4 separate regions of the Homo sapiens genome follow, and all the other regions are reported to be linked to region 4. The links are microRNA targets in miRTarBase. Many come from high-throughput screens and were not tested one by one. Region 4 holds a microRNA gene; each other region holds the end of a gene's coding sequence.

Region 1 (6,543 bases), not on the chromosome of region 4:
ACCTGATTCACCTTGATCCCAGAACTCGTGAAGGTTTCACCTTGCTGCATCTGGCTGTCAATTCCAATACTCCAGTTGATGATTTCCACACCAATGACGTCTGCAGCTTTCCAAATGCACTTGTCACAAAGCTCCTGCTGGACTGTGGTGCTGAGGTGAATGCCGTGGACAATGAGGGAAACAGTGCCCTTCATATTATCGTTCAGTACAACAGGCCCATCAGTGATTTTTTGACCTTGCACTCCATCATCATTAGCCTAGTTGAAGCCGGAGCTCACACTGACATGACGAATAAACAGAATAAGACTCCGCTAGACAAAAGTACAACTGGGGTATCTGAAATACTGCTTAAAACTCAAATGAAGATGAGTCTCAAGTGCCTGGCTGCCCGAGCAGTTCGGGCTAATGACATTAACTACCAAGACCAGATCCCCAGAACTCTTGAAGAGTTTGTTGGATTTCATTAAGTGACTGGATATGTAAAGTCGTTTAATGTGGTGCTAAAAAGTAAAGGACTTTTAATCACAGACAGTAGAATTATGTGTTCATAAATTCTGCTTTTCTTTCCACTACCCTTCCTCCCATCCCATCCTTCCTTAGTTCTGTATTTGTTTTTCTTGCCTCATGGTAATTGATTTCAGACAGACTTTAACAAAACCACATTGTTTTGGTGTAACTATAAGGTATTTGCATATTGGTTACCTATTTGTCTTTCTTTTTTTTAAAGGAACAGATATAAAATGTTTTGTTTATGTAACAAGGGACATTTATAATTTCAAGTTGATAATGTTTTAAACAGCTGCTTACAAAAGTATTTCTGTTAAGCCTATGTCAGCATGTTATCCATGCAGCAGTTTTGAGGATTTTATGAAGAAAAAGAGCTAAAAAGGAACATTAAGAGGAATGGGATATCCAGGTGTTCTGCACATGCCAAACTGCTGTAGATAGTTTACACTCTTCCATTATTTATACGGAGTGATGCAGCACATTTTAGCATTCAGGAGGATTTTTAAAAAATAGCTGCAGATTAATCTGGAAAATGTGCTAATTTAATAATAGTTACAAATTTATAAATTTAAATCCATTTGAAATTGTTGCATTATGCTGGGTAGTATATACAAAATGGTTATCATCTTAAACCAACTTTTCAGAGAATCTTGATGGACTCTGCCTTTAGGCTTGAATTCTTCAAAGTCTATTTTAATGAAATTTATCTAAATTGCAGCAGTCTATTTGATTCAGCTCATAGACATGTAAAAATTATGAATGCTGTTTTCTTATGAAACAAATTGTCACAGTGTAGTTATACATTCTATTTTTGTCCCCTTTTCCCTTTTTCTCCTGTATCTTTTAAAATTTGGAAACTACTTTTCCAGAAGGCATTATTTATGCCTCCCTAATAAGGTATTTTACTTATGACAGATGAAAAGGAACCAGGATATGTTTGAATTTTTTCACTTTCTTAGTCTGTGACAAGAAGTAGAAATATCACTAGTGTGGTATAGGAACTTACATGTTTTTTATGATGAAAATAATTCTCAATGCCACTTGAAAGGTAATTGTGTCTGAGAGCTGCAAATTTTTCAACCACAAAATGTCACTTATTCCTACAGGCTATACAGAGGTCTTTATGGTTTTTTTGTTTTGTTTTAATGGCAACATTGTAACTGTCAAACTAAAAGGGTATTCTGTGATTATCTTTTAAGCATTACAGAAATTCAAGTGAAAGTTATATGCTTATTTCTATTGATGTTAAAAATGATAATGAAAGCAAAATTAGCTGTATCTGTAATTTTCTCTCTAGTGCCAAATGAATGCCTTAGCTACTCATAGTGCATGGTACTGTAAGTGAAGACCTGTAGCTTTTTTTTTTTCTTTAATGAAAAGCATTATAATGATGTAGCAGCATCAGATATAAACTTAAAAAAAAAGGTTTCAATTAACATTTTATATATGGATAATGCTTTGTAAAGTGTAAGAGAAAGGTTGCAGTTGGATCAGTATAAAACAATGACCAAGCCAAAATCAGCACCCTAGGGCCTTAAATAAAATAGAGATACCCCACAAAATGAAATATTTTGAAGGATGGGAGGGGACAGAAGGGGGGACTATCCCCCAAGGATGCAAGATACTTTTTACAGTTGCTATCATTATACTTTGTCTTCTTGCTTCAGTTAGGAAGGTTTTGATGGTAAATTCTGTCATGGTAATAGATACCTATTTTCCTAACCTGAGATTTTACAAGGAAGGTTTTTAGGTTGGCTTAAATGGAGGTATTTATTTGAGTGAGCCCTAATTTGAAAATTACCAGACTTGATCCTCCTGGTATGAATCAAGGAAATACTGTACCTTGCTCTTAGCAACTCTCAGTGGCCTGAAAGAGAAAATGCACTTCTTCAAGGTGAGTGAATCATGCTTTTTCCACAGTTCAGATCAGACCCTTTATTTTTCAAACTACAAGGCCTGCTTATTGGACAGTCTAAGGAATAGCTTTGATACTTGGTATTCAGTTGGTTCCATTATTAATGTATATTATTTTTATTTAAACATCAAAACTTAAAATATCAGATAATGTTGCATGTTTTAAAAACACATTTCATCCCTTTGGCTACCCAGGACCAGCACTATTTAAGACACTGCTTATTTATAAAATGAGAATAATGATTATATGTACATATTCAGACATCAAAATTTAATGACATTCTATTTTGAGAAGGGAAGACAATGCTGAAGAAAGTAAAACTGTTGATTGAAATGCTGACAGGGTGGAGAACGAATTTGAAGACAGTGGAATAAACTATGAACTATGCTAATGGTAATTAGATTTTTTGTTTGTTTAGTATAGTGGTAAATTGTGTAGTATCTTGCTGAGAATCTAATTCTATCTTGTAAAATCAATCCAAATGTGTATTGTGAAACACCTGTATAAAATCATTTTTGAAATAAGTGATCTACATGCCTGTTTTTTTAAAATGTTTTTGGTAGAATTGTTTGAAAATATGTTTAGCCAGACCCTTCCCCAACTTAATTTTTTTTTAAAAAAGGAAAATAGGTAAGAAAATGATAGTTCTATATCTCAGCCCTCTGTGAACTCTAGGCTGTCTCCATTTTGCAGCCACTTTGGTCATTTGATGTTTACTATTGGTATACTTATGCTTTGAATTGTAAATCTTCATTGATGGTATTACAGATTCAACCAAAACTTCTCTGTCCTGTTCAGTAATTGTTATATAAATCTGGATGAGCTAGGGAGGCCCAGGTGGATGTTTTCATTCGCAAATCATGAGAAACTTAAGTGGGTTTTATGCACTTGATAGAGTTGGCAAAATTGAACTATGAAGTTAACTATTTAACTCAAGGAATGGGCGGCAAACCCATCCCCTCGATTGATAAAGAAGGGGAACATTTTTACATTAGAACTGACACTGAAAACATAGCTTTTTCAGTCCACCCTGGTTGCTCTAGTAGCCCACAGCCCAATCACGTTAAGGTTCTTTGCTGTGGGAATTTTAAATAAACCAAACCCCAAAGCAGACCATCTGTAAGCTTTGGTCTGCTTGTTTCTGAGAAGGGTTTTATTTCATTATACTAATAGTGGACTAATAATTGGTAATTGTGAGAACTTAGGTATGATAACATTGTTTGAAGTAAAATATGATTTGGGGGCAGCAGCTTTCTAAATACCAACTCTGTTTGACAAATGTTTTGAAAATTAAAATTTCAAGTGAGCAACACCCTGTTAAGAGTTTTCACTATAGTTGAGGCAGCTACTTTATGAATAAGACCACTTTGGGTTATTTAAGCAGAAGCGTTTCTTTTTTTTTTTTGGAATGGGGTGGGATGAGGAGTGAGTTGCCAGACCTTTGATTAGTTTGCTGGTTTAGAAACAGCCAGTGGCTGAATTAGTGAGTAAATGAATGAAAGTATAAAGGACTTGTTTTTTATGATAGATTTTCTGTAAGAATCTTAAATGTTCCTTTTCAAATTAGATGTGTTGATGCACACATGACTATTCTGTTTTTCTCACTGACTATATAACATTAAAAAGGGGTTAAAGAAAACAAAACTCTGCCTTTTGTGCTATGAAATATTTTTAGTCCAGAGGTTTTAAGCTGTGTGTCCATTCCTACTCTGAAAATGCATAGCTTTGTTCTGGATGTCATCTCTTGAAAGTAGAAAACTCCTATGTGTTTATCACATTGCAGGGCTTTCTTATGTATTTCTGGCAGACTTGCCCAAATCTTTAGATGGGCTGGGTTATACAGCATGCCCTCCCCCAAATAAGGGATCTGAAATAAATACTACACTATTGATAGTGGAGATATATTAATTTTTAAAACTGTAAAGTAAATGTGGTCTCTAGGTTTGTGGTGTGTACCTTTGTGTTAATGTGTAGGGAAGAGACAGTGACTTGATGGTTATGGGGAGTGTATCTTGATGTGTGTATAGGGGTAAGTATTGCTAAATTATTTACAGCTTTTATTCAGGGTGAGTCATGTGATGAATGGCCTAATCAGAAAAGTGAAGGAGCGAAGATGCAAGCTTGCCAAATGATGAAATGAACAAGATTTTGTATCTATTTTTTATCAGGTGTTGTAAAATTTGTGCATGGCTTTTTGTTGTTGTTGCTTAGTAACTGGTAGAGGAGAAAAGATGAGGAAAGAAACTCAGCTTTCCTCACAGTCTTTTCAAAGGTACACAGTTGGGGAGTAAAATCTGACTGGCCTAATCGATGGAAAAGACCCTGTCCTTTTCACCCCATCCTGCAATCCTCCGTGCAGAGGAACTACACTGTTGTATTCTAGTAATTCACTGTGATTTATAACAAACCGGTGATGTCATTCTATTGTGCACTTTTGTCAAACCATTTATGTGACTTTAATAAACATAGTAAACTTGCTGACTGCACCAGAGGTCCATTAGTGATTTATATATTGCATGACATTTTCTATTTGAGTTTGACATGTAGAGTCATTTTTAGTTTCATGGCAATTGACAGTCCTAATAACTCAGCTAATTTGAAACTAACAATCTTGCTGTGTAAAAGGAAAAAATGGTGTTTGTGTTCAGTAAATGTTTGAAAAAAACTACTTTGAGGTTTGTGTCTTTATTAATTATTCAGTGTGCCTTAGTTGCGATGTTCTTTTGTTGAGTGCCTTAAAGTTGTCAAAGTTATATATGTGCATGGGAAAAAATTCACGTAGTAAAGAAAAATTCAAATATATATTTTAAAAGTTCCCTTTTCATCTCTCCCCGCCTCCTATTTGGACTCTGCAGAGACAATCACTATTAATAGTTTTTTGAGTAGCTTCCCAGAATGTTTCTGTGCACATATGTATTATTTCTCCTTTTCAGTTTTTAAAATGCAAATGAACTTCTACCTTTGCAACGCTATTCTGTATCTTATCTTTTTCATGTAATATATCTTAGGCATTTTCCATTTCTATATGTATAGGTTTTTAAAACAACTTCATAGCAATTAATTCTGTTGATGGATTGAAAATGTATTTAACTAGATTTTATTGATGGACTTTTAGATTTTCAGTTTTTGATATTTCAAATAATGCTGCAGTCAACATCCTTAAGTACCATACTTAAAGGACAAATTCATTCCTAGTACTGGAACTTGGTTTAGTGACTACTTAAAATCTTGACAGAAGTTATCAAATTGCCTTCCATCTCTCTACATCTTTATTGACATCAGATCTAATCATTTAATTTTTGCAAAGTTGTGATTAATGAAAAATAGCATTTCATGGTTTGATTTGTATGCCTTTATTATGAGTAACATTGAACACTTTCATATATTTATTGACTATTGGTGTTTGCTTTGGGGTTGTGTGTGTTTTTTTTCTACTTGTTAGAAGTTCCTTAGAAGTTTGAGGACATTTTCTCTGTCATGTAATAGTTGTAGCTTATTTACTTTAAATATGGTACTTTTGTATCCAAAGTTTACATTTTTCTATAGTCAAATTTATCACAATTTAAAAAAATGGATTCTGAGTTTTAGATCCTGCTTGTAAGGCTGTCTCTATTCCAAGTCATACTTTTTTTTTTTTTCCCCCATGATCTATTTGAAAAAGACACTTTTATGGCTTCCCTTCCCTTCTTTCTCCTTCTCTTCTTTGGTTTAAAATGTTGATTTTCCTATAATTTGTTTGGTTTTTGTTTGTTTGTTTTTTGAGACAGGGTTTCATTCTGTCACCCAGGCTGGAGTGCAGTGGTGCCATCATGGCTTACTGTCGCCTTGATCTTCCGGGCTCAAGTGATCCTCTCACCTCAGCCTCCCAAGTAGCTGGGACTACAGGTATGTGCCACCATGCCCAGCTAATTCTTTTTATTTTGGTATTTTTTGTAGAGATGGGGTTTTGCCATGATGCCTAGGCTGGTCTTGAACTCCTGGGTTCAAGCAGTCCTCCCACCTCAGCCTCTCAAAGTGTTGGGATTACAGATGTGAGCCACCACACCTGGCCTTGGACTAGTATTTCTTCATTTGTCTTTTTTAAGTGGGGAGGTGGGAGTGGCTAACTTTTTTCATTATTA
Region 2 (7,438 bases), not on the chromosome of region 4:
CCCGAACAACACCCCCAGATCTCACCCATCACCCCCAATGCCCAGGACTCTCAGACTAGGTCCAGGCCCAGGGACACTAACTTCAGCTCTGGCCTCAGCCTGCCTGGAGAAGGCCTCAGCATTGACTTCACACCTCTGCCAGTTGGATGATCACTGGGGTCAGCACCATTGCCCACTGGGCAGCAGGAGGCAAAGGGCCTGGGGGGCCTGGATCCCAGACAAACAGCCGCAGCCCAGCCCAGCCCCCAGCCCAGCCCAGCCCAGCCCCCCAGCCCCCAACACCCAGCCCAGCCACAGCCCAGCACCCTCCCAGACCCCAGCCCCCAACCCCCAGCCCAGCCCAGCCCCAGCCCCACAAGTGGCCCATTCCAAGGCCTGTGCAATCTCCCAGCAGGCATACCTAAGGGAGGGCCAGGAGGGGATGGTTCAGGAGCTCAAAGGGTGTCCTGTTGCCAAGGCTGCACCCTGCATTTCACAGCCTGGTGATGCAGGTCATACCCTGCATATAAATGCACCCAGCGGGTCAGGACTTGTCAAGGCCTCACTCAGCAGCTGCTAATTGGTGGCCACCTCCGCAGCCTCCCCTGTTCTCAGCCCCGCAGCTGCTCCTGCCCTGCCCACTGCACCACCGCCCACTCGCCTATTCCCCGACTCCCCCACTGTATGGGTTGGGGGCCTGCAGCATCCCAGGGCAGGCTAGTCTTCTCTGGCCCTGCATCACCTGCCCTCTCTGGGCTCATGTGTTCTGGGCAGCCCGGCTGAGCTGGACAGGAGGGAGAGGGAACCCCAGATCTACTCCCCTGCCGAGACATGGGCAAGGAGACTGCTCCCCTCCCTTTTCTCTGTGACCAGAATCATCCAGCTCAGAGAGACTGTCAGATCTGTGAGACTTAGAAGGGGTCTGGGCCTGGGTGGGTGGAGGGTTGGGGGCACAGGACCACAGAGGAACATTCCCATCCTGGGTGCCAGACCAGCTGGGGTGGCTGGTGCTCCGGACAGGCACGAAGGCCGCACAAGGCAGGGCAGGACTTGGAAGTTTCCCTCCATTCCAAATGAGGCTTCTTCCTGGGGCAGCCCTGGTCCCTTTCCTACAAGGAAGCAGGTTGGAAGCCCCTCTCCCCAGACCCAGCCTGTTTCTGGCTCAGAGACCCCTTGAACTCGTCCTCAGGGCCGCCCCACCATCCCCATGTCTGATGCCCTTGAAGTGAGGGTCTCCCAAGTGCCAAATGGTTTATTACTTGGATTTTCATGCCCAGCTGCCTCTTGGCGCCTGCCTCCCTCCCTCCTTCCCTCCCGCCTCCCGCCCTCCTCCTGCCTCTGAGCACCACCTGTCTCTCCAGCCTGCCTCAGCAACCCCTGCTTGCCTGTTGCCAGGGAAACCGCCTCCTTGGCAACCAGCCGGCATCCATATGACACGTACACTCAGGAAGGAAAGGCTTCTGCTCTTGCTTAGGCTGTTGGTGGGCTCTGCTCCGGAGTCCAACAGGTTCTGAGGGAGGGTCTGGTCTGTGATCCCAGAGAGGGGAGGTGGGCAGGCCTCATGCTTCTCTTGACCATTCAACAGCAGTTTATTAAGCACCTACTACTTCCCTGACTGTGTGTGTGGCCCTTTGTGCACAGTATCTCATTTAATCATGCATTGAACCTGCAAAATAGATGTGATTATTCCCATTTTACAGACGTGGAAACTGAGGCATGGAGCGGTTAAGGGGTTGCCTTTGGCTGGCGCAGTCAGAGCCGAGATTCGAACCTACTCTTGTCTGACTTTAAAGCCCCGGTTCTTTCTACCATCCTGAGGTCTCTGGCTAGGCCTTTCTTAGCTGGGCCAAGAGTGAGTGGGCCTAGGACACACCCGAGTGACGGGGAAGCCCCCTTACCATAGCTCATTTGGTGCTGCTCCCTTTGTGCCAAGCACAGCTGTAGAATCAGAAACCCAGAGATAGACTAGGCATGGTCCCTGCCCTCAAGGGGTTCCCATCTGGTGAGATGCTGGTGGGAGCAGGACTCCGACATGACCCAGTGCAGGAGCCGTGAGGCCAGGGACAGGGCCTCCAAGCCCAGCTGAGCTCAATACTGACTCGGGCTTCCTGGGAGGAGGCTTGGGCTATGGGGGGACCGTGGTCAGAGAGTGGGTGGCAGGAGCTTGAGACCTCCAGGGAGGCGCATATGGGTGATGACAGCAGCCCAGGTGGCCCAGGAGGGGTGGCTGAGGGGAATGAAAGGAAAGTGACAGGCAAGGGGGATGAGGGGTGTGCTGAGAACCAGGATTGGACTCTGGAATCCCCCAGCAGGGCACAGGCTCGATGACCAGGGAGTGTGACCCCAGTGGGTGCCTGGGTTATCCTTGAATACAGGCTGGGGTGGGGGTTGGGGAGAGCTAGAGGGTATGGGTGGGTGGGAGGACCCTCACAGGGGCCGGGGCTTTGAACAGGGGGGTGAAGGCAGAGGTCATGGGGGCATCCTATTGGAGCAGTGGCCACAGGTATCATGCAGGGGGCTGCTGGCTGCCAAGCCCTTAAGAGCCTAGGGACAGGCAGGGACAGCAGGAGGAGGCCTGGCCCTTTCTCTTGCCAGCCAGGTGGAAGCCTGGATAGAACCCTCCAGGTGGAATACAAGGCTCTACTGGAGGTCCTTAAGGGAGGTTAGGGAGGTGGCCGAGAACAGAGAGGGGTCAGCCCTTTACAGGCAGGGAAGGGGAAAGGTGACTCTGGGAAAGGGGGTGGCAGGTGCAAAGGTGTGGCTGGGCTTCACCCTCCCCTGGGCTCCCACGGTGGGGTGTGTAACAGGCAGGGGGCTGGCTGCTGGGGCCAGGGACTGCCCCTCTACACACTTGCCCCTGATCCTGGCACCCCGTTTCCTGTAGGCTCTGCAGCGCCGCGAGACCGAGGTCTATGCCTGCATCGAGAATGAGGATGGCAGCTCACCCACCGCCAAGCAGAGCCCCCTCTCCCAGGTACACAGGCGCTGGGGCACCAAGCCTGGCTTCTTGCTCCATCTGACCCTCCCATCACTGGTGAAGTGGGGGGGCAAATGGGACATGGAAGTGAGCCACCTGCTGTGGAATCCCAGCCATCTCCTGGTGGCAGCTGGCCTGCTGGTTAAGAGGACTGGTGCGTTTGAGTTCCTGCTCTGTCCCTTAGCCACTGTGCAGCCCTGGCCGAGGTGTCTGACTTCTCTGTGTCTGAATCTCCTTGTGTGCAGATTGAGCAACCTAACAGTACCCACCTCATAGATGTTCAGTGAGGGTAGAATGTACTGAGAGAGCTGCCTGGGACCCAGCTGTGCCCATGCACTATGAGCCACTGTAACTATCACTGGGCACAGTGTCCACATGGTCAGTCAGACAGGGGTGTTAGGCTTCCAGCTGCCCCCAGGTTGGTGTTGGCTAAAGTCTGGAGCTAGAGTGTGAGCTGGTAGAAGCTGGGCTGGCCTGGTCAGGGTTCTGTGATTGTCATGATAGGGCCTCAGGCATATTACCCAATCATACTTTCTCTCTTTTTTTTTGTTTTTGTTTTGTGTGTGTGTGTGTGTGTGTGTGTGTGTGTTTGTTTGTTTTTGTTTTTGTTTTGAGACAGAGTCTTGCTCCATCACCCAGGCCAGAGTGCAGTGGCGCGATCTCAGCTCACTGCAACCTCCACTTCTCAGGTTCAAGCAATTCTCCTGCCTCAGCCTCCCGAGTAGCTGGGATTACAGGCGCCCGCCCCTGTGCCCAGCTAATTTTTTGTGTTTTTAGTACAGACAGGTTTTCACCATGTTGGCCAGGCTGGTCTCGAACTCCTGACCTCATGATTCACCCACCTCAGCCTCCCAAAGTGCTGGGATTAAAGGTGTGAGGCACCGCGCCCGGCCCATACTTTCTCTCTTAAACCTGTTTGCTCATCTGTAAAGTGGATGAGCAGTGTTTTCCTGCAATACCAACTGCCTCTGAATTCAAATGTGTTCCAAGCTGAATAACATCTGCACCAGAGCTTCCAGCACCGTCAAGCGTGAGGCGTTGTTCAGCCAGAACAGGAGCCCACAGGCCTCTTGGAACATCTGTCAGGGAGTGCGGGCGCCTGGCACTTGGCCTTCTCTGGCTCGGGCTGGCACTATTTGTTAAATCGCCTGTTCTCAAAGCCCTTTCTATACTCAGCCCTCAACTAGACCCTGAGTGAAAGCAGGGACATCTCCGGCAGTGCCCACCCTGTGCCAGGCCCTGGGGTGCTGGACAGGAGAACTAGGCATGTCCCTACCCTCTGGGAGCCATAGTCTGCAGGAATAGGTCGCTGACCCCATGGACACACAGAGGCATTTGTAGCCCTGTTGTGAGGGGTGTTCTTCTGGGAGGGACCAGCCAGGGTGGGGAGGGAGGGAGGGGGTCCCTGGGACCCTATGATGAGCCCGCAGGCAGAGTGAGTAGGGGGCAGTCATGGAACAGGTGTGTCTGTGGGAGGAGGCGCATCCCACACATAGGGCAGAAGGCAGAGGGCAGAGCTGTGGGGGAAGCTCTGAGGCTGGAAGGGCAGGCCCATGTGGCTGGAGGGCAATGGGCAGGGGTGGGGGCAGCATGGTGGGGGAAGAGGCTGGGGAGGTGGGCTTGGAGACAGAGGGCAGGCCCCCCATCAAAGCTACACAGGAAGTGATCTGTTGCCCTCTGGCTAAAACTAAATTAGTGCAAGTTCATTCTTAATGGTCATTCTCTCTCTTTCTCTCCTTCCCTCCCTTTCTTCTTTTCTATCCAGGAGAGACCGCATAGATTCGAAGATGATGGCGAACTTAACCTGGTCTATGAAAATCTCTAGGATGGGCTCCACCGCTCATAGAGCTTGCCCTGGGTCAGAGGACCGGGGCAGCCCCTGCCACCAAAGGACTTGATCTGAGTTGGGAGTAAGGCCCCCAGGGACACCCCATCATTTCACCCTCACATTCAAGGCCCTTCCTGTCTTGGCCGGCCCCACTGCCCCCCCATTCTATGCCCCAACCACCAAGGCTTTCCCATCTTGGGGCCTTTGCCCAGGCTGTTCCTTCTGCCAGGCAGGCCCTTCCTCCCTTGGCCCAACCAGCAAAGCGCCCCTCAGTCTTCAAGGGCTTTCCTGGATGCCACCCTTGCCCAGAGCCCTGCTCACTGCCTCATGCTGACAGAGCAGCATGCTCTCTTGGCACCAGCCTGCACCTCAGCCAGTAGGGCAGCCTCTGAGCTGAGGGAGGACCCTGCAGGGGCGCCTAGCAGTGCTGTGTGGGGAGCCGAGGTATGGAGGAGCTGGGGAGCAGCTATGCAAATCCCTACCTACCCAGCTGGGCCAGAGGCACGAGGCAGCCAGGCAGGGTGGGAGCAGGGGCTGGCGTGGGAGGTCTGGGGGACAGACAAGGATGATGGACCCCTCAGAGGCAAGACTAGGATCAGGGACAGATCTGGAGGCCCAGGACATGGCTGAGAGGTGGTCAGCAGGCTGGGGGCATGGAGCAGAGAGGGCTTGGGTACAAGCTGGAGAGGAAGGAGATTCTGGCATGTTGGGGTGAGGGCAGAGGGACAGATGAGGGGAGGAGGGTGCTGGCTAAACAGGAACTGAATGAATGGCCTGAAGCTCCCTCTCCCAAGGGTTCCCACTCCCATTGGCCTGGCCCTGTACGTGCACTCTGTCATCTCCTTGGTCACCCTCTGCTCCAGGCCTTCTCCACCACAGGACCTCAGCTGTCCCTCCTTCTACCCAAGGTGGAGTCCCCCAAAGTCCCTTCTGTCTGGCCTATCCTGTGCCCACCACCTGTGGCTTCATCCAGCCCTCCTCCTCTATCTTTATCTGCCATAGGCCGCAGCCCTGGCCCCCTGTGGATTGAGGTCCCAAGTGGTCCAGCTGTGGGGTTTGGTGCTGGGACCCTCAATGGCAGCCGGAAGGTCCCTCTGAGGCAGAAGCTCAAGCCCCATGGGGACAGTGGCTCCCCAGTGCCTGGCCCTGAGCCATTTCTGCTGTTTCAGGTGCCCACATCACCCTCATTTCCTCCTCGCAGTAGCCCTGCACCGTGGCCAGAAACCCATCCACAGGCAGGCAGTGGCTGGGGTCCGGGTGCCCCGGGCTGTTGGGCTCTGCTTCCTCCCTCTGCTCCCCCATGTCTCCCTGAGTTCTCCCACCTTTGCTCATTTGTAAAATGGGCAGGTCAATCTTCCCACCCCACCGTGTGGGCTGCCCCAACCCCAAATGTGCCCAGGGAGGGGGGGGAACCCAAGGCACAGGCCCCGCCCCTGCCCCCAAGCAGCACTGGGCTACTGGCTCACAGAAGCACCTTTGGTTCTGCAGGTCATGCCCCTCCCTGCAGGGAAGGGAAAGCTGGTGGTAGAGGCTGGGCACAGACTGACGTCCAGAAGAAGTCCCTTGGCCCTGCTAGGGTGGCACCAGACTTCTCTGGTCCCACAGGACAGCCAGTGGCCTCCCAACTTGGTTCTGGGCCCCCGCCTGCAAGCACACATGGCAAGGAGGGCTTTAGCAGGCTCACATAACCGAGTGGCAAGGCCCCTGCTCCCAGAGGCTGGATTTGAATGAACTCCGGGCCTGTTTGGGGAGGTGAAGCTGCCAGGTGTGCACAGGGGCCTCCCAGGCTCCTGGCTCCACCAGCCAAGGAGGTGGGGGCAAGGGTCAGGGCAATGGGGGACAATGCCGCTCAGGGTGCAGTGAGCTCCCCTGGGAAAACCGAAGCCAGCAAGACCAGGAGAGGGCCACCTCACTGGGCCTGCCTCCCCCACCTCCTGGGCCTCTCTGACCTCAGCTCCTAGACCCTGGACCCTTGGCTGGGACTCAGCATTTTCCAGTCTTTTTCAGGGGTAGACAGGGGAGCCTGGGTTAAACTTTACCACTGTGCCCTGGCCCAGGCATCACCAACACGGCCTCCCTGCAGCTGCCCTGCCACCGACAGACCCCGATTAAACCCACACCTGGCCTTGGCCTCCCCTGCTCTATACCTTGCATGGTTTTTGCCTCACTTGGAATAAAATTCCAACTCCTCCCTGTGGCGTAGGAGGTTCTTGGGGGCTGACCCATCACCCCTCTGGTGGACAGAGACATTGCCAGCGTGGTGGTCGTCTGTGCTTGGTTCAGGGCAAGGCTGGGAGGCAGTGGGTGCTGAGGTCTTCAGTGAGCAAGGAGAGAGGCAGGGAGGAGGAGGAGGAGGAGGAGAGCACAGCATGAAAGGACGGGACCCTAAAGGGCTTTGGCCCAAGGGAGGGTGGGGCAAGAATGTTCTGAGACTTCTGTGGGCAGCAAAGAGGACTGAGCACCTGTTCTCCAGCCCCCAGGACTGAGAGCCTGCAGAGACAAGCTGGCACAGGGCGAGGGGTGGCAGGGAACTTCAGGGTGGGAGGTGCATGGGGCAGGCGGGAGGAGGAAGAACAGAGAGGGGACAGAGAGGGTATGAATGGGAGCTCCTGGGGTGCAGGCTTGCTTTCCACTATGAATGGGTGGAGGAGGGA
Region 3 (3,053 bases), not on the chromosome of region 4:
CCCCAGCCCCAGAGGAGAATGCTCCGTCTGAAGGCCAGCGTGTGTGGGGTCAGGGACAGAGCCCCAGGCCAGAGAACTCTCTGGAGCGGGAGGAGATGGGTCCCGTGCCAGCGCACACGGATGCCTTCCAGGACTGGGGGCCTGGCAGCATGGCCCACGTCTCTGTGGTCCCTGTCTCCTCAGAAGGGACCCCCAGCAGGGAGCCAGTGGCTTCAGGCAGCTGGACCCCTAAGGCTGAGGAACCCATCCATGCCACCATGGACCCCCAGAGGCTGGGCGTCCTTATCACTCCTGTCCCTGACGCCCAGGCTGCCACCCGGAGGCAGGCGGTGGGGCTGCTGGCCTTCCTTGGCCTCCTCTTCTGCCTGGGGGTGGCCATGTTCACCTACCAGAGCCTCCAGGGCTGCCCTCGAAAGATGGCAGGAGAGATGGCGGAGGGCCTTCGCTACATCCCCCGGAGCTGTGGTAGTAATTCATATGTCCTGGTGCCCGTGTGAACTCCTCTGGCCTGTGTCTAGTTGTTTGATTCAGACAGCTGCCTGGGATCCCTCATCCTCATACCCACCCCCACCCAAGGGCCTGGCCTGAGCTGGGATGATTGGAGGGGGGAGGTGGGATCCTCCAGGTGCACAAGCTCCAAGCTCCCAGGCATTCCCCAGGAGGCCAGCCTTGACCATTCTCCACCTGCCAGGGACAGAGGGGGTGGCCTCCCAACTCACCCCAGCCCCAAAACTCTCCTCTGCTGCTGGCTGGTTAGAGGTTCCCTTTGACGCCATCCCAGCCCCAATGAACAATTATTTATTAAATGCCCAGCCCCTTCTGACCCATGCTGCCCTGTGAGTACTACAGTCCTCCCATCTCACACATGAGCATCAGGCCAGGCCCTCTGCCCACTCCCTGCAACCTGATTGTGTCTCTTGGTCCTGCTGCAGTTGCCAGTCACCCCGGCCACCTGCGGTGCTATCTCCCCCAGCCCCATCCTCTGTACAGAGCCCACGCCCCCACTGGTGACATGTCTTTTCTTGCATGAGGCTAGTGTGGTGTTTCCTGGCACTGCTTCCAGTGAGGCTCTGCCCTTGGTTAGGCATTGTGGGAAGGGGAGATAAGGGTATCTGGTGACTTTCCTCTTTGGTCTACACTGTGCTGAGTCTGAAGGCTGGGTTCTGATCCTAGTTCCACCATCAAGCCACCAACATACTCCCATCTGTGAAAGGAAAGAGGGAGGTAAGGAATACCTGTCCCCCTGACAACACTCATTGACCTGAGGCCCTTCTCTCCAGCCCCTGGATGCAGCCTCACAGTCCTTACCAGCAGAGCACCTTAGACAGTCCCTGCCAATGGACTAACTTGTCTTTGGACCCTGAGGCCCAGAGGGCCTGCAAGGGAGTGAGTTGATAGCACAGACCCTGCCCTGTGGGCCCCCAAATGGAAATGGGCAGAGCAGAGACCATCCCTGAAGGCCCCGCCCAGGCTTAGTCACTGAGACAGCCCGGGCTCTGCCTCCCATCACCCGCTAAGAGGGAGGGAGGGCTCCAGACACATGTCCAAGAAGCCCAGGAAAGGCTCCAGGAGCAGCCACATTCCTGATGCTTCTTCAGAGACTCCTGCAGGCAGCCAGGCCACAAGACCCTTGTGGTCCCACCCCACACACGCCAGATTCTTTCCTGAGGCTGGGCTCCCTTCCCACCTCTCTCACTCCTTGAAAACACTGTTCTCTGCCCTCCAAGACCTTCTCCTTCACCTTTGTCCCCACCGCAGACAGGACCAGGGATTTCCATGATGTTTTCCATGAGTCCCCTGTTTGTTTCTGAAAGGGACGCTACCCGGGAAGGGGGCTGGGACATGGGAAAGGGGAAGTTGTAGGCATAAAGTCAGGGGTTCCCTTTTTTGGCTGCTGAAGGCTCGAGCATGCCTGGATGGGGCTGCACCGGCTGGCCTGGCCCCTCAGGGTCCCTGGTGGCAGCTCACCTCTCCCTTGGATTGTCCCCGACCCTTGCCGTCTACCTGAGGGGCCTCTTATGGGCTGGGTTCTACCCAGGTGCTAGGAACACTCCTTCACAGATGGGTGCTTGGAGGAAGGAAACCCAGCTCTGGTCCATAGAGAGCAAGACGCTGTGCTGCCCTGCCCACCTGGCCTCTGCACTCCCCTGCTGGGTGTGGCGCAGCATATTCAGGAAGCTCAGGGCCTGGCTCAGGTGGGGTCACTCTGGCAGCTCAGAGAGGGTGGGAGTGGGCCCAATGCACTTTGTTCTGGCTCTTCCAGGCTGGGAGAGCCTTCCAGGGGTGGGACACCCTGTGATGGGGCCCTGCCTCCTTTGTGAGGAAGCCGCTGGGGCCAGTTGGTCCCCCTTCCATGGACTTTGTTAGTTTCTCCAAGCAGGACATGGACAAGGATGATCTAGGAAGACTTTGGAAAGAGTAGGAAGACTTTGGAAAGACTTTTCCAACCCTCATCACCAACGTCTGTGCCATTTTGTATTTTACTAATAAAATTTAAAAGTCTTGTGAATCAATATGGGTGATTTCTCTGGGGACAAGTGCAGCAATCAGGGCTTCGGAGGGGAAGGAGTGGGGCAGGGCTGGGGGCAAGACCCCTTTCAGCCCCGGAGACCCCTATCTCCAGTTCACCTGGGGCAGAAAAGCAGACATTTTTACAGTCAGCAAGAGAAGAAGCACCAGGGATTAGAGTGAGGAGTGCCGAGCCCTCAGCCCAGCTCTGTTCTGCCCGGCTGTGTGATGTTGGGCCAGGGCCCTCACCTCTCTGGGTCTTATAAATGTGAGGCCTCTCCTAGTCTGGCAGGACTCAGAATCCCTCATGAAGCCCTACCCCATGCCTGCCGAACCACCATCCCAGGGGCCCTAGGACCACTCTCAGTGAACTGGTGCCCCATGGGAGGAAACTGGCCCATAGTTTCCTCTTTGTGGCCTTCCTGGTTCAGATGAAGATCAAAGAGGGATTACTTCTTAAGGGACTTGGGAGTTCATAGATGTGCCCCAAGTGTGAGCCTCGTGGTGGCCCCTAAGCTCTTCAGTGTTCTGGGAAGCTTCATAAG
Region 4 (3,000 bases):
CTCATTGCTTCCTTTATCACATCATATTTTATTCTTTAATTTACCAGTATCTGTTTCTGGGCTACTTTGTCCTGGAGTCTTGTGCCCATATTGCATGGCCTTAAATACTGTAGCTTTATAATATGTTATAAAATCTGGTAAGCCAAATCTGGCTTATTATACTTATGTTTTTCAAAATTTTCTTATTCTTCCAGAAGTTATATTTGATTTTGATGGGAATCATGTTGATCCTATTTTGACTTTAAAATAGTCAGTCTTTCCATCTGGGAATTCAAATGGAGAATACTTAGGAATCTTGTAGGCCAGGCGTGGTGGCTCACACCTGTAATCCCAGCACTTTGGGAGGCTGAGGCGAGTGGATCACCTGAGGTCAGGAGTTTGCGACCAGCCTGGCCAACAGGGTGAAACCCCGTCTCTACTAAAAATACAAAAATTAGCTGGGTGTGGTGGTGGGCGCCTGTAATCCCAGCTACTCGGGAGGCTGAGGCAGGAGAATCACTTGAACCTGGGAGGCTGAGGTTGCAGTGAGCCGAGATTGTGCCATTGCACTCCAGCCTGGGCAACAAGAGCAAAACTCCGTCTTAAAAAAAAAAAAAGAAAAGAAAAGAAAAAGAAAGAAAGGAAAAAAGAATCTTGTTTTGCAGGCAAGATACAGAAGCTCAGAGGAGGGAAGCAGGGGCCCAGGTCTCCTGACTCCCTCTCCAGTGTGTTCTACACTCACCCTGCTGCCCATCTTTCTCCCCACTGGAGGCAAACTCCGTGTCCAACCTGAGGCTCCAGTCCCCTGTGACCACCAACCGGCCCCTGGTTGTGGGGTGCTGGGGCCTGTCCCCTGCTTACCAGGCGGGCAGTTCTCTAGCAGATGGACAGTGAGGGTGGCAGGGCTAAAGGTGGGCCGGTTGTCATTGTCATCCAGGATGGTGATGAGCAGGTGGGCCGTGCTGTTGAGCAGCCCGATGTCCTCAGCCAGCAGCAGCAGCTCCAGGATGGGTGGCGAGAATGCCTCCCGGTCAATGATGACACCTGACCTCACGGTCACCACACCTGGCACCCGGTGCCGCCAGCCAGGGAAACACACAGAAAAGGGGTGCGGTGGGAAGACAGGGCAAGAACCAACAGGGAGAGAGCAGAGAAAGACAGGGGCACCATGGGACAGAGATGAAAGAGGAGCAGAGGCAGTAACAAAATGACTTTCTCCCCCACAGGCTCAACCACCCGTGCTGAGGGAGGGCCCCATGCATTTCCTGTGGTTGTCCCCTCTGCAGGTGCCCTCTGCTGTCTTCAAGACTCTTGCCTGGGAAGAGTGACCCAGGGCACAGGGTTGACCGTCTCTGTTGACAGATGTGCTTTCCTGTCGGCACCTGTCACCAAAGCGGCCTCCTGTCCAGGACCAGACGGATGTGGCATGGTCTGGTTGGAGGACAGGAAAGTCGCTCTGGCTACTTCTGCTGGACTAGGGGCCTGAGCCTCTGGCCTGCGCATGGGGAGATGACGGGAGTGGGCTGGGGGGCTCCCGGCCCAGGCTGAGAGTTCGTGCACCAACAGAGGTCCTGTGTATCGTCTCCAAGCCTCTTCCCACGTCCCCCTGCCAGGCCACTGGGTGATATAACCCAGCTGCAAGATGGGGACTCTGGGCTGTGAAAAATGGGGTCTCCACGGACAGCCTGGGTCCAGCACTGAGAAGGGAGGCCCTCAATCCAGCAGTGTGGCCATCCCCACCCCAGAATCAGGCTGGGAGTGCTGGGTGGCACAGAGGCCTCACCGGTGCTGCTGTTGATGTCAAAGAGGCCACTCTGGGCACCCAGCAGCTGGTAGGTCACCACGGCGTAGATGTCTTGGTCTGCATCCAGGGCCAGGATGGGCCCATTGAGCACCGTGAGAGGGGTGCCTGGGCCAGAAGGAGAGGGGTCACCACAAGACCAACCCAGCCCCCTGCCCTCCCACCTCCCCTGCCCTGTCCCGGTGAGCCATGGCTGACGATGGATGAGAGGGGAGGGAGGTGAGGTGGACAGGGTGGGGAGGCCCTGGGGGCGGGCCTGCGGCAGCCTTGGCAGACTGAACGCAGATGCCTGGGGAGCGGCCTCAAAGCCCTGCTGGGGAGAAAACATGAGAGTGGTGAGCAAGGCCCCGGCTGCCCAGAGCCACATCTGCCTTCCCAGCAGCCTTTGAGGCTGGCCGCTCCTCGGGAGGGTCTGGGGCTCCCTGACATCCCCTCCCCATGTGTGGGTCTCGCCTGTCAACACATGTGTTCACACAATGCTCTGCCTTTGGGGGCCTGGCCATACATGACTAGAAAAACCCACTCATGTGTGCATCAAGTTCTGTGTTCACATGGCCACAGGCACTTGTCCAGGAGCACGCACAGGCCTGGGATTCCCTGGTTGTGCACTCGTGTGCCTCTGCAGGTGGGCATGTCTGCACACGAGCGCATCAGTGGGCACCCATGTACCTATATGTGTCTGTGCACATGTGTAACCCCACGCACATGCCTTGGTATGGACACACACGGGCACATGTGTGAGCATACACACAGACAGGTTTAAGAATGAAATTCACCTAGGGGGGATGCCCAGCCAGAGATGAGGAACAGGGGCTGGGGAGACTGGAGGAGTGCAGGTGCCACCTCAGGGGACATCACAGAGGAGATTCTGTCCCTCTGGAGGGAGGTGAGCCTGGTCAGTGCATGTGTGTGGGGAGAGGGCTACACTGGCCTACCCAGGACCCCCTGACCTCCCACTTCTAGTTATAGATGCTCCCCAGGGCTTCCAGAAGGCCCTGGGATGCCCTGCACTCCTGGGGTGGAGGGAGCAGTGAGGGGTGGACCCACTCCCCTCCGGGGTAGTCCTCACACCTTACATGCCCTTCTTGAGGGATGGTGGGGCAGCTCTCAGACCACCCTGGGGAACAATGACCACGACTGTCTCTTCCAACCAGACCTGTGGCTTCTTTGTGCTCATAGGAGGCCCGGGAGCCCCAGCCCACCATCTCCCGGAGCTGCAC

Evidence for each region. Region 4 holds the annotated microRNA hsa-miR-7152-3p (UCUGGUCCUGGACAGGAGGC, at 1,376-1,395, opposite strand). A microRNA usually pairs through its seed, bases 2 to 8, with sites in the 3' UTR of a target mRNA and lowers its output. Matches are read on the target gene's strand: a 7mer-m8 pairs with bases 2 to 8, a 7mer-A1 pairs with bases 2 to 7 and ends in A, and an 8mer does both.
Region 1: miRTarBase lists FEM1B as a target of hsa-miR-7152-3p. Seed matches in the 3' UTR shown: 7mer-m8 at 2,616-2,622.
Region 2: miRTarBase lists NFAM1 as a target of hsa-miR-7152-3p. The part of its 3' UTR that is shown has no 7-base or 8-base seed match.
Region 3: the mRNA of CX3CL1 is a reported target of hsa-miR-7152-3p. Seed matches in the 3' UTR shown: 7mer-m8 at 1,762-1,768.

Annotation. Positions count from the first base shown.
Region 1 is chr15:68,290,776-68,297,318 of GRCh38, forward strand. FEM1B (fem-1 homolog B) reads left to right here. Exons shown (of 2, transcript NM_015322.5): 2 at 1-5,087. The coding sequence ends at 467. It overlaps ITGA11 (integrin subunit alpha 11), which reads right to left. Exons shown (of 30, transcript NM_001004439.2): 30 at 5,757-6,543. Among named protein-coding and RNA genes, the nearest start is that of FEM1B, 16 kb to the left of the region's middle.
Region 2 is chr22:42,382,504-42,389,941 of GRCh38, reverse strand. It overlaps NFAM1 (NFAT activating protein with ITAM motif 1), which reads left to right. Exons shown (of 6, transcript NM_145912.8): 5 at 2,864-2,953; 6 at 4,722-7,438. The coding sequence ends at 4,781. Among named protein-coding and RNA genes, the nearest start is that of LINC01315, 17 kb to the right of the region's middle.
Region 3 is chr16:57,382,536-57,385,588 of GRCh38, forward strand. CX3CL1 (C-X3-C motif chemokine ligand 1) reads left to right here. Exons shown (of 3, transcript NM_002996.6): 3 at 1-2,509. The coding sequence ends at 497. Among named protein-coding and RNA genes, the nearest start is that of CX3CL1, 12 kb to the left of the region's middle. RefSeq lists enhancers at 1,177-1,867, 1,868-2,557, 1,977-2,136.
Region 4 is chr10:71,789,176-71,792,175 of GRCh38, reverse strand. MIR7152 (microRNA 7152) reads right to left here and starts at 1,429; the gene lies at 1,376-1,429. It overlaps CDH23 (cadherin related 23), which reads right to left. Exons shown (of 70, transcript NM_022124.6): 46 at 1,763-1,888; 47 at 841-1,044. RefSeq lists an enhancer at 989-1,888.